Linked DNA regions of Homo sapiens: region 2 is linked to region 1. Evidence: fine-mapped expression QTL. Tissue or cell type: aorta. Region 1 holds a variant in brackets; the other region holds the start of a gene. All regions are shown on one strand. Distances are from middle to middle.

Region 1 (5,381 bases):
GCATAATAGACAAAAACTGGAAGTAACACAAATGTTCCAACAGTAGAATGCATAAATTGTGGTATATTTCTACAACGGATTACCACACAAGAGTGAAAAAGAATGAACTATTGATTCCCACAACACCATAGATGAATCTCACAGATATATTGAGCATGAGAAGGTAAACACAAAAGAGTATATACTAAGTGATTCCATTTCTTTTTTTTTTTTTTTTTTTTGAGATGGAGTCTCACTTTGCTGCCCAGGCTGGAGTACAGTGGTACGATCTGGGCTCACTGCAAGCTCTGCCTCCCGGATTCACACCATTCTCCTGCCTCAGTCTCTTGAGTAGCTGGGACTACAGGTGCCTGTCACCATGCCCGGCTAATTTTTTTTTTTTTTGTATTTTTAGTAGAGATGGGGTTTCACCGTGTTAGTCAGGATGGTCTCGATCTCCTGACCTCGTGATCCGCCCACCTCGGCCTCCCAAAGTGCTGGGATTACAGGCGTGAGCCACTGCACCCAGCCAAGTGATTCCATTTCTATGAAACTTAAAAAACAGGCAAAACTTATTTAGAGAGAGGGTAGAATGTGGCTACTTTTGGGAGGTGGATGCATATTGACTGTGAGGAGACACGAGGGAATCTTCTGGAATGGGGGTCATGCTTCACATTCGATCTGGCTGGTGGTTACATGAATACACATACAGTATACCTTCATCAAGCCAGACACTGTGAACCATCCATTTTACTGTCTGCAAGTTGTACTTCAATTAAAACCAAAAAGGATAAAGGTAAACTTTTCCACACAGAATTCCCCCCTCCACATCAGGGTGCCTAGGATAAGCAGCCATCCATCTGTGGACCTCTGTCTTATGCCTTCTCCATCTCTGAAACACTGAGTTTTCTAGTGCTTTCTAGGCTGGGCTATTGCAATCTGGAATCTACAGCAGCTGCTGCTCATATCATCATTTTCCAGCCCTCCTTTAAAAAACGCATTAAAAAAAATCTTGATGGACTACAGTATTGTGGAAAAGCAACAGACCTGGACCAGCGAGCTCAGACTCCCTCTCCCCGACTGGTCAATGAGAAACCCTGGGTTTATGTGCCTTACCCCCAAAAGAGTTATAAAGTTTAGTAAGTGCCTGGAAAGCAGGCAAGACTCTGCGATGCAATCTGGATCACCCATTACCAATTTGCTTTGCTCATCCACCGTAGTGGCTGGGCCTTATGCTTCCTAGGGGAAAATGAGCAGTTTGAATGCCTGCCCCCTCCTTCTCTCCTCTCCCATCTTATCCACTCTCCTCCCTTTGTTCTCCATTAATGTGTTCTCTAATGTGGGGGTGCCCATATTTGTGGCTATTTGGGGAGAAAACTTTGAGCCAAACTTGGGGCTTCACACATAACCCCAAGTTGTAAGCATGCGATGTAGCCTGCAGAGGTTACAAAAGGCAGATTACCATGTGGTGCTGCGGTTGCAGTTATTTCATGCCATTTTGTATTTCCGCTCTCTAGGGTAGTGACTCACTGCTTTCCAGTTCAATGTGAGGACATGTCCCACAGTGTTGACTGCCTGATGCTCCTGGAGGACATTCCTAACCCACCACTCACCAAGTTATTAGAAATCTAACTCCGAAATCACTAATCCCCAAATAGCCTCTATTCTCTCAACTGCTGGCTTCCTTGCTTTGATTTTATGCACAGTAGTTCTAAACTCAAGGCCAAAAATTCTACCCCATGCCGAGCCACTTTCAAAGGAGAACCAATATGCTAGGACTAGAGGGGGATTTGAATAGCAGCTAATTGTCAGTTTGTCTAGTGAATAAAGCTTCCTCTCTCCCCTGAGCAAGCTGGTTATTTGTTAAAGTTTGCTGGGGTTTTGGAGCACCTCACTGTTAGGGGCAGTTCAAACTCAGCAGTTTTAATTATTAATCAGGTCAAAGGCTGATGACAATTTTTCCTCTCTTCAGGGGAGGGTCTTGAGAGTTCACAGGAGGGGATGTCCAAGCCCTGTCCTGTGACGGGGTGGAAAGGAAGGAGAGAGGGAAACAATTCAAGTCAGACCAGTCCCGAGTTCCTAATGGTTCCTTTGCCCTAGACAGACCGTATTGGAAAGTCGCTTAATCTGCCTCTGGGTTCATTTTAAGCGAATATAGGTCTTCATCCTTTCCAGGGGGTTGTAGCTTTCTGAGTTGATAAAAATTCCAGACTTGATAGAACATGTTAAAATGTTGTACCCTTGCAAATTGGAGTGCAGAAAAGGTGGTATGCTCTTCAAATGTGTCTACTCTGAGGTATCACCTTCCTCGGGGTGAGAATGGGGAGGGGTGCCTTCTGCTTGAGCACATGTAGAAAAGGCGTGAGGCTTTTTCCAGTTTGAGTTTGTAACATTTTCAAATACAGCCCTTCCTCCCACACTTCTTTCCTGATCCCTGTGGGTCTCCTTTCTCCTTTTGGCCTGAGACCCCAACTTGACAAGATCCAGAAAGGTCTCTTTTACATCTGCCTATTTGTTAGCCATTCTAAACTATTCCAGCAGCCTCTGCCTCCCACCCTCGTTGCTAGGCAGATTCCCTGGTTGCTAGGCCACCACTGCTCCTTCCCTGCCTCAAAAAGAGGTACGAATTTCCGGTGACCCACTCAACCATCCACCCACCCACTCACACACTGACAAAACAAATAGGTCCTAAACACCTACTAGATGTGAAACTCTGAGCCCAGCGTAGAACAGTTCCAAATGGAAAGAGAGATGGCAAATCCAGGGGTATCTGATATAGAGGTGACCAGTTGTGGGGGTGATGAGCATGCTGTCTCCTGGGAGTTTTCTCCGGGAACAGCCATAGACTGGGATAATTTTCTCTGACCCTCAGCCTTTTGGGTGCAGAAAACTCATTTTCTGCCCAACCAGAAACAGATCCTTGTCCTAGTGGCAAAAGCATATTGATCAGGCTTGAGAGACTAATGCCTAAAACCAGAAAGTGAATTTATTAATTTATGATGTGAATGAAGTCTGTCACATGGATCCAAGATAATCTACTTTTCTAGAAATGATGGTGTCACCGAAGGATATTGGAGAGCTGGTATAGAGCACCAGTTTGCATAGGAAAGGGAGTATATCTGTATATCTATATTAATTTTAACATTCTTACTATATGTCAGGCAAAATGCTAGATGGTTTACAGATGCAATTTTATTAGTTCCTCCTATCAACCATGAGAGGGAGCTACAAAACACTCCTTCCAATGTCACAGAAAAAGCAGTTCCAGTTAAACGACTTAACTCAGGTCTTCCAGCTAATAGATGACAGGACCAGAATTTGAACCCCAAAGCCCATGGTTGGACCAATGGATTCCAGCTACCTGGCAA[T/C]AGTAGGCTGACACGTTAGCTTGGGGGCAAGTTGGGTAATGGATGCTAAGGCGCTGATGAATGAGCCTGATGGAAATTTCCAATAAATGATGGAACATGTGGAAGTGGAACTCTGTTGAACCTACATCTAGAGATGGGAATTGGAGGCATCATCTAGCATTTAGCTCACTTCTTCTGGAGGTGCTCTGAGAGAACAGTTTCTCAATTCTTGGTGATAGTTGATACGTATTTGTGCTTGTTAGCTCCAGTGTAGCAGTGGAATATAGGAAGGTCATGTGGGCTGGCATCTAAATGGTGGGGAACAGGGGACCTAAGAGGGATTGCTAGGGCTGGGAGCTCAGAAGGAAAGGCTTCTGGAGTAATAGCTTCACCACCATCCTGCCAGACAGACATCAACCCAAGAGTCCCAGCACCTAAAGCTACCAAGAGACCAAGATCTTAGCTTTTTTTGTTGTTGTTTTTTAAAGAGACAAGGTCTCACTCTGTCACCCAGGCTAGAGTACAGTGGTGTTCACTATGACTTCAAACTTCTGGGCTCAAGCTATCCTCCTGCCTCAGCCTCCCAAGTAACTAGGACTGTAGGTGGGTACCACCACGCCCAGCTAGCTTTCTAAAAAATTTTCTTTGTAGACATAGGCTCTCACTATGTTGTCCAGGTTGGTCTTGAACCCCTGGCCTCAAACAATTCTCCCACCTTAGCCTTCCAAAGTGCTGGGATTACAAGTGTGAATCACCATGCCTGGCCAATTTTAGCTTTAAGGAAAGGTAGAAGCAGCCTTGGGGAGAAGGTCGCATGTTTGTGGGTGGAGCAGAGTCACTGAGCTCTCTGGAAGGGGCACCCCGGAACCGGCATAAGAAGGTCGGCAGAGGAGTGCATTCCTCGTTCAGGGGCCAGGTCAGGAGCCCCAACTAGGGGGCAGAGCAGACATAGCACAGCCTAGATTTGGGAGCCAGATTCAGACAGGAGCCTGGGTGGCATTGTTCTGAAAGCCGAGAACTCAATGAGACATGGCAATGGTGTTAACCGCTGTGGAGACAAGAGCGACTCCATCGCGGATGCTAACCCGCCATGTTAACTTATGAGTAGCCCCAGTCCTGAGTGCCTCCTGATTCCTACCTTGTTTGTCTCTAGTGTAAGAACAAAGCAACCCTGATGTTATCGCACAAATTATAGGCTATGACGCATGTAGCATTCTTGCCTCTTCCGGAGGGTTGCCTTGCATTGTCCTGCTGGAGTGTGTGCACCCTTTCTCTATGGTATATAAGCCATGGGTCTGGGGAGTAACAGTGCAGAAATCTACCTATCTTGCATCCATGCAAGACCATGCTTCTCTCTGTAAGTTCCCCCCAATAAAACACCCTTTACTGACAAATTGGATTTGTTTGCCTCGTTCTTTGTTTCTCAGCTCCTTCAGCATTTGGGGGCCACTTTGCACATATGGCCCTTTCCCAGAACAACCTCTATCTCAGGCTAAACTCCAAGCCCTAATGAATTGAGGAAGAATGAGGAGCAAGGGGTCAAAAACCTGTACCTTTTCTTCCTACCCTTCTTAGCCTCTTGTTCTTGCAACAAACTATTCTGGGTCTAGACTTGAATTATGCTGGGGAAGGAATCTGTGTTCCGTAAGTTGTCTGTTTCTCTGCCTTTGTAATTTACTTTTTTGGCGTTCCCCCCAGTTTCCTAGCGAAGTGCTTTTTGAACAATCTCAGCCTTGTCTGGACGCCTGAGATTTGCCCACATTTGGGCCGAGACAGCCAAGGGGTTCCAGGGCCCCTGGAAATTTAGCATGGTGGGGCCAGCAGCTGTCTCAGCTGGATTTGCAGGAAACAGCTGGTGGAGCCAGGGCAGAGAGAGGTGAAATCTCGAGAGAGGAAGAGATTGAGAAACAGAGAGAGATGGGAGCAGCTGCAGTTGCTAAGCTCTTCCAGCCTGGGTTCTTCCATTACAGAGGCCTGCCACCGTCTCCAGCTCTCCCCACACTGACTTTACTCAAAAAGACATAAACAAGTTAAAGTAGTGATGCCCCAGGGACT
Region 2 (5,381 bases), 24 kb before region 1:
GGATTTCACTATTTGGTTTAATAAAGTTCTGACAATGGTAACAATGCTTTGCTAAACTGTTCATTAAAAAAACAGAAAATATAACGTATCACTTCCTATAGGAGTTCATTTATAAAAATACAACTGAGGTTTATATTATTTATAGTACTTAAATAGGTCAGACTGGTGTGTAGACCCAAGGAATTAGTACAGAGTGCTTCTTAAGACTGAAATGTTCACGGCTACATGGTAGAATGCAACATCTTGGGTATCAGCATATGAACCTACTTGTTCTCTGCAGACATTGATACAAAATAATTACTTGGTATCTAAGCACAGCTGCGTTTTAAAATTTAGAATAACAAGCTAAAAAAAAACTCAATAGATGTATGCCAAATGAATAATGGGGATTATAAAAATGGAGTAAAACTTGAACAGACTCTCATAACAAGAGTAGAACAGTAGATGGTAGAATGGCAATACAGGTGATTTGGCTGATCTAGGGAATCAGTTGAAGAGGAGTTTGCTGGACAAGGGCAGAAAAGAAAAATACCAAACTTATGCTACCCTCTTTATACATTAAGATGTTAATCTAAGTAACAGCAGAAATTAGAATGAGTTGTCACAACTAGTTTCAAATTCTTAATTTTTTATCAAAGAATCCTTAAGATAGTTACAAAAATAACACATTGCTTGGGAAAAACACAAGGAGAAAAGGAAGAAAGTTAACAAGAATAACAAAAACCAAATTAATTTTTAAGAATTTCTGTACCGTAAAGACTGGATTTCATTATCTGGCTTAACTAATCAAGTTCTGACATTGGCAATAATGCTAAAGTGAAATAGGAATCCATTACCAGAATTCGTATTCTGATTTGTTCACTGTAGAGTTGTCAGCTGCAAAAAAGGGGATGTTATGATATGCTGAACAAAAAATTAACTTTCTGGTAAATTTTGCTAAAATGTATCATTTTACTGAAAGAGAATAAGCTATAGACTATTGATTTCCCTAAACATTCATCCACTATGAGGTTGGAATGCTCAGTGAAAATTCCAACAATCCAAGTTTCTTGAAGGTTAAGCTTCTTGTACACTTTACTGGTCACATTAGAAGAGCAATGCACATCTTTACTGGTTTACCAAGTCCATCACGCTTGTTTGAGATGCTGGTATAAAAGCTAAGTGCTTATGAGATGAATATGAGTGACGGGCTATGGAAGAATATATGCATTTGTTTACATAAATTATACTAGGCAAATTAACTCCACCAGAGTAAATGTTGGAGGTTCTGCAAAGGGAAGAAGGATGATACCTTGTTATTGATCTTGTTATTGATTGAGGAGAGATGGGAAGGGACCCAGAAGCAGCTCATTTGTTGCACACAAGATAATTCTAAATGCATTTTACTAAATGTAACACTGTATCTCTTCCCTAAAATATTGGACCTCAGACTCCTTTTTGATTAATACACCAGAAAGAGAAAAAATGATTTTGGGTAAAACATACAAGAAACCTGTAAAATAACCATGAATGTAACTTTCAAGAGGTAGGTTCTCTAAGTTCATATGCACACAAAATGTCCACTGCTTATTTAACAACTGGCTTAAAAAAAAACACACACACACACACAATTATAACAGTTTCACAAACCCTTATCTGAACCTTCTGGGGCCAAATGTGTTTTAGAATTCTGAATTTATCAGATTTTAGGAAGGGGATAACTTGGATGTATTATGGAAAGTCCCCAGTGGGGTCTGGTGCTGCAACCTGTAATCAAATCCACTGACATTTCTCCAGCAAAACATGAATATTCACACTTAATGGGATAAAGACCACAAACAGCCTTACATTAGTTTTAGTCAGATCTGGCTGCCCAGTAAGATGTGGTGCCAAACTTACTGAAAACGTTTTGGTTTTCATAGCTTTCTGGCTTTCAGAGTTAAGATAAGGGATTGTGGGCCTGTACCACAGTATTAGTAACATGAATATTGTTAAAACTTAATACAATTTAACTTAAAATAAAAGACAGTACCAAGTTCGTAGGGAATTTAAACATGTTTTATTGTCAGAGGATGTCATTAGATGAAACTCCCCATCTCATTACATAGCTCCCACAAAATCTTTACAAAAAAATTAGCCTCTTGGAGAGGCGTGAAGTTACTGAAAGAGAAAACACGTCACATTCCAAATCTGCAAGTTCTTTTAAGTATGAACTAGCGTGCACGCTGGACTACAAAGTAATTCGTGGAAGGGATTCCCTCATCACAGGTTACATAATTTCACCCACAACATAGAAAAGGTTTATATTACTAAACCACTAGGATCAGTAGAACTGACAACGTACAGAAAACGATCTAAATATGCATTAAGCAGTTAGGGTCCCGGGTCAAACTCTTGCAAAGGAAAAAAATCACTTTCTTTCTACCTAAGGCGGGTTCTCCGTAGCTGTCCAGGCTGGTGGTCACTAGACCAAGAGCAGCTGCCCAACTACAGAGAAGCAAACTCCAACTCCCAGTAGCCCCTGCGCGGAGGCGGGGCGGGGATTTGCCAGGCCCCGAAATGCCAACGCCTGAGCTCGCGGAGGATGGCGGGAACTGGAAGAGCGGCGGTCTGCAGCCCTCCCCTCATACCCTTGCCCCCGCGACCCGGCCCCTTCTCAAGCCCTCTGCACGGTACCTGTCCCCAGGACTCTCTGTTCTCTTTCCCGCTGCAGCATGGGCGGTACTACCGGGTCTCAGATGGCAGCGCGGGGGCGACGACCCCGGGGCTGGGGATGAGGGGAAACCTGGCCTAGCGGGCATGCAGCGCCTTGTCATGTCGGCGCCGCTGGCGACGGCGGCATGAGCCGTGGCTGGAGAAGTTGGGTGCGTGGTTGCCGTCTTGCTGCTGGGACTCCGGGAGGCTGTCGGAGCAGAGGTGGGCGGCACCCCCTTCTCTCTTCATGGCGGTTCTCTCTTCGGAAGTGACTCCGGCGTGAGCGGGAAGGAACCTGGGGACCAGTAAGGGGCGGGTCTTACTTCATGAATCACGTCTTGATTGGCTGGCACGGTGGTCATTTCGGTGGTGGCGCAATAGGAAGCCGCAGCCTCTCTGGAGAAGGCGGGGCTTGGGGACGGGGGAGGAAGAAACCTCCCCCTCCCACCCCGTCACATGCACTGAGGGCGCGCGCCTCTGGTCCCGGCCGCCTCGGCCTTGGCCGGCGCGCGGGGGCGGAAAGGCGCGGGCAGCAGCTGGCGGACAGCTGACGACACCCGCCTGGTTGAAGGCGAGGGGTGAGGGTTTGCTGAAGCAAACCGGAGCCCGGCAGCTGCCTTCGTTGAGGATGGCCAACACTTGGGCTTCCTGTGTCACACAATTGTGCCTCAGAAATCCGCAGCTGTTCATTACATCGTCTCTTTAACAGCTTAGGCCAAAGTGCCATAATACTGTCACAATTTGCTGAGGGATCTGCACAGCGCGATCCGAAGACTTGTCCATTCTACGACGGTTCTTGTTGAGTGTCAGCGGTAGATTATTTTTTTGTCTTTAAGAAGAAGAAAAAACCCCCAAAAAACTCCATTGGAATAAAGACAGTTGTTAATCCACAAAAGCATTTTGTTTCTCATGAGTTACCATGAAGTCTCTGCAGCCGACTTCCTTGGAGATTTTTTAAAGGAACACAAGGTCAGCTTTCAGTTTTCCATGTTAAGCGTGGGCAGCATAGATAAGTAAAAGCTGCCTGCAATCTCCAACCCTCCTTTGTAAAGGGCTTGTGCTCTGGAGGCTGTTAGCCATGGTTTTCCTTATAAACCGAGAGACTGGTCAGTATCTCTGAACCTCAGCCTCCACATCTGTAAAACGGGCATTTTACTCACTTTTCTGGGTAATTGTAAACCATAAAAGGATAAAACAGTGTACACTGCACAGTTCAGATTCTCTCATGTAACAGGTACAGAGCAAATTATAGTTCCCTTTCTTCCCCAGATAGATTCCTACAGCGAATTTTACTTCTTTACAAAATCTTCCAGAGACAGGTCAAATACTGTTGCAATAACTGTTAACAACCAAAATATCAATTTCAAGATGTCCAAGCTTTAATTGACAGAGTTATTTAATCAGTTGGATGGAAAAAAATCTTAAATGATATAAAATAATTTGGACGGGTCTTTCAAGTTTATTGTATAGAAATTGAACTATTGGCCTGATACAGTTGCTCACATCTATAATCCCAGCAGTTTGGGAGGCCAAGGCAGGTGGATAGCTTGAGCCCGGGAGTTGGAGACTAGCCTGGGCAACATAGCAAGACCCTGTCTCAAAAATAAATTAATTAATTAAAATTTAGAAAAAACGAAATTGAACTGTTCTGGTCACTAAGCATGCCTGACTGACTCCAAGTTCACCTCCTTTTCCCTTCCCCTTTAGTCCCCGGGAGGAAGAATTAATAAGGAATAAAGTGGACAAAAAGCTGGCAAAGTAGAGGGTCGAAGGTAAACAGTGAATATACAGGTTTCACATTCACCCCAAAAGCACATATGTACAGCTGTATACTAGCTAATGGTGGCGGAAGAAGGGAAGTGCCAAAATAGAGGGTACTTTTCTGCTCCTAATAGCGGAGAATTTACTATACGTAACATTGTTTTTTACATAAAAAAACATGATACTCAAAATGTGTTGAATGACTTACACATTTGCATTTTACATGTATTATTTCCTATCTCTTAGTGCTTTCTGTTGGATGTTTTTACACTAGGAAGTTTCTGTACTATAACAGAGCACATCTACGAAACATTTAATCCGATTCATTTCCTTGCATGCCTAATCGATAAAGAGTAATGCATAAAAACACGTTCTGCATGATCATTTAGTTGCTTTTCTTGGATTATAGTACTTGAATCATCCAGCCTCCAAAGTATCACTTTAAAGCCTGTACTCAAACTACCAAACAATAGTTTTCTCATTTTCTTAATCTGAGTAACAGATTATGGAGTTAAGTGAGGCAAGAAATCCCTCGATCAATAAATGGAGATGGAGTCATAATGAAAACACAATTTTAAAAATATCTTCTTAACGGGAAGTAGTTATCTAAATCCTCAATAAGCATCAAGACTCTTCTTTGTTTAAGCTGTGTACGAAAGTGGTACAGATTTGGGTTGCAGGGTGAAATATGTTCAACATATTAATAAGAACCCCAGGGGAACTTCTAGGGCCTAGGGCTCTTCTCCACCTCCCACCCCCAAATAGTACTGGACAGTCTATTTTGTGTTTATATCCTTTCTCCTAGTTTAAATGTGTACGTATATACCATGCATGCGTGTGCACGCACACATGTTTATTGTAAGGGTTTTTTACACTTCAATTTGTAGTGGGCTAAAAGGAGATGACCAGGAAACTACACTAGGTAAAAGATTTAAGGAGTTCAGATG

Alleles and levels. Alleles are on the strand shown, and positions count from the first base shown. SD is a standard deviation of normalised expression in the study named.
In carriers of allele T in region 1, the expression in aorta of the gene that starts at base 2,943 in region 2 tends to be higher than with C alone (small effect, 0.16 SD a copy in GTEx).

What was found. PIP is the estimated chance that this variant, and not a neighbour inherited with it, causes the effect.
Region 2: SLF2 starts here. The variant in region 1 is fine-mapped to the expression of SLF2 in aorta (GTEx, PIP above 0.99).

Annotation. Positions count from the first base shown.
Region 1 is chr10:100,886,975-100,892,355 of GRCh38, reverse strand. No RefSeq gene overlaps it. Among named protein-coding and RNA genes, the nearest start is that of SLF2, 23 kb to the left of the region's middle. RefSeq lists enhancers at 1,350-1,644, 1,169-2,368. The variant T/C (reference allele first, on the strand shown) is at 3,348.
Region 2 is chr10:100,910,525-100,915,905 of GRCh38, reverse strand. It overlaps SLF2 (SMC5/6 complex localization factor 2), which reads right to left and starts at 2,943. Exons shown (of 20, transcript NM_018121.4): 1 at 2,656-2,943. The coding sequence starts at 2,795. RefSeq lists enhancers at 2,794-2,843, 2,864-2,933 and a silencer at 3,154-3,423.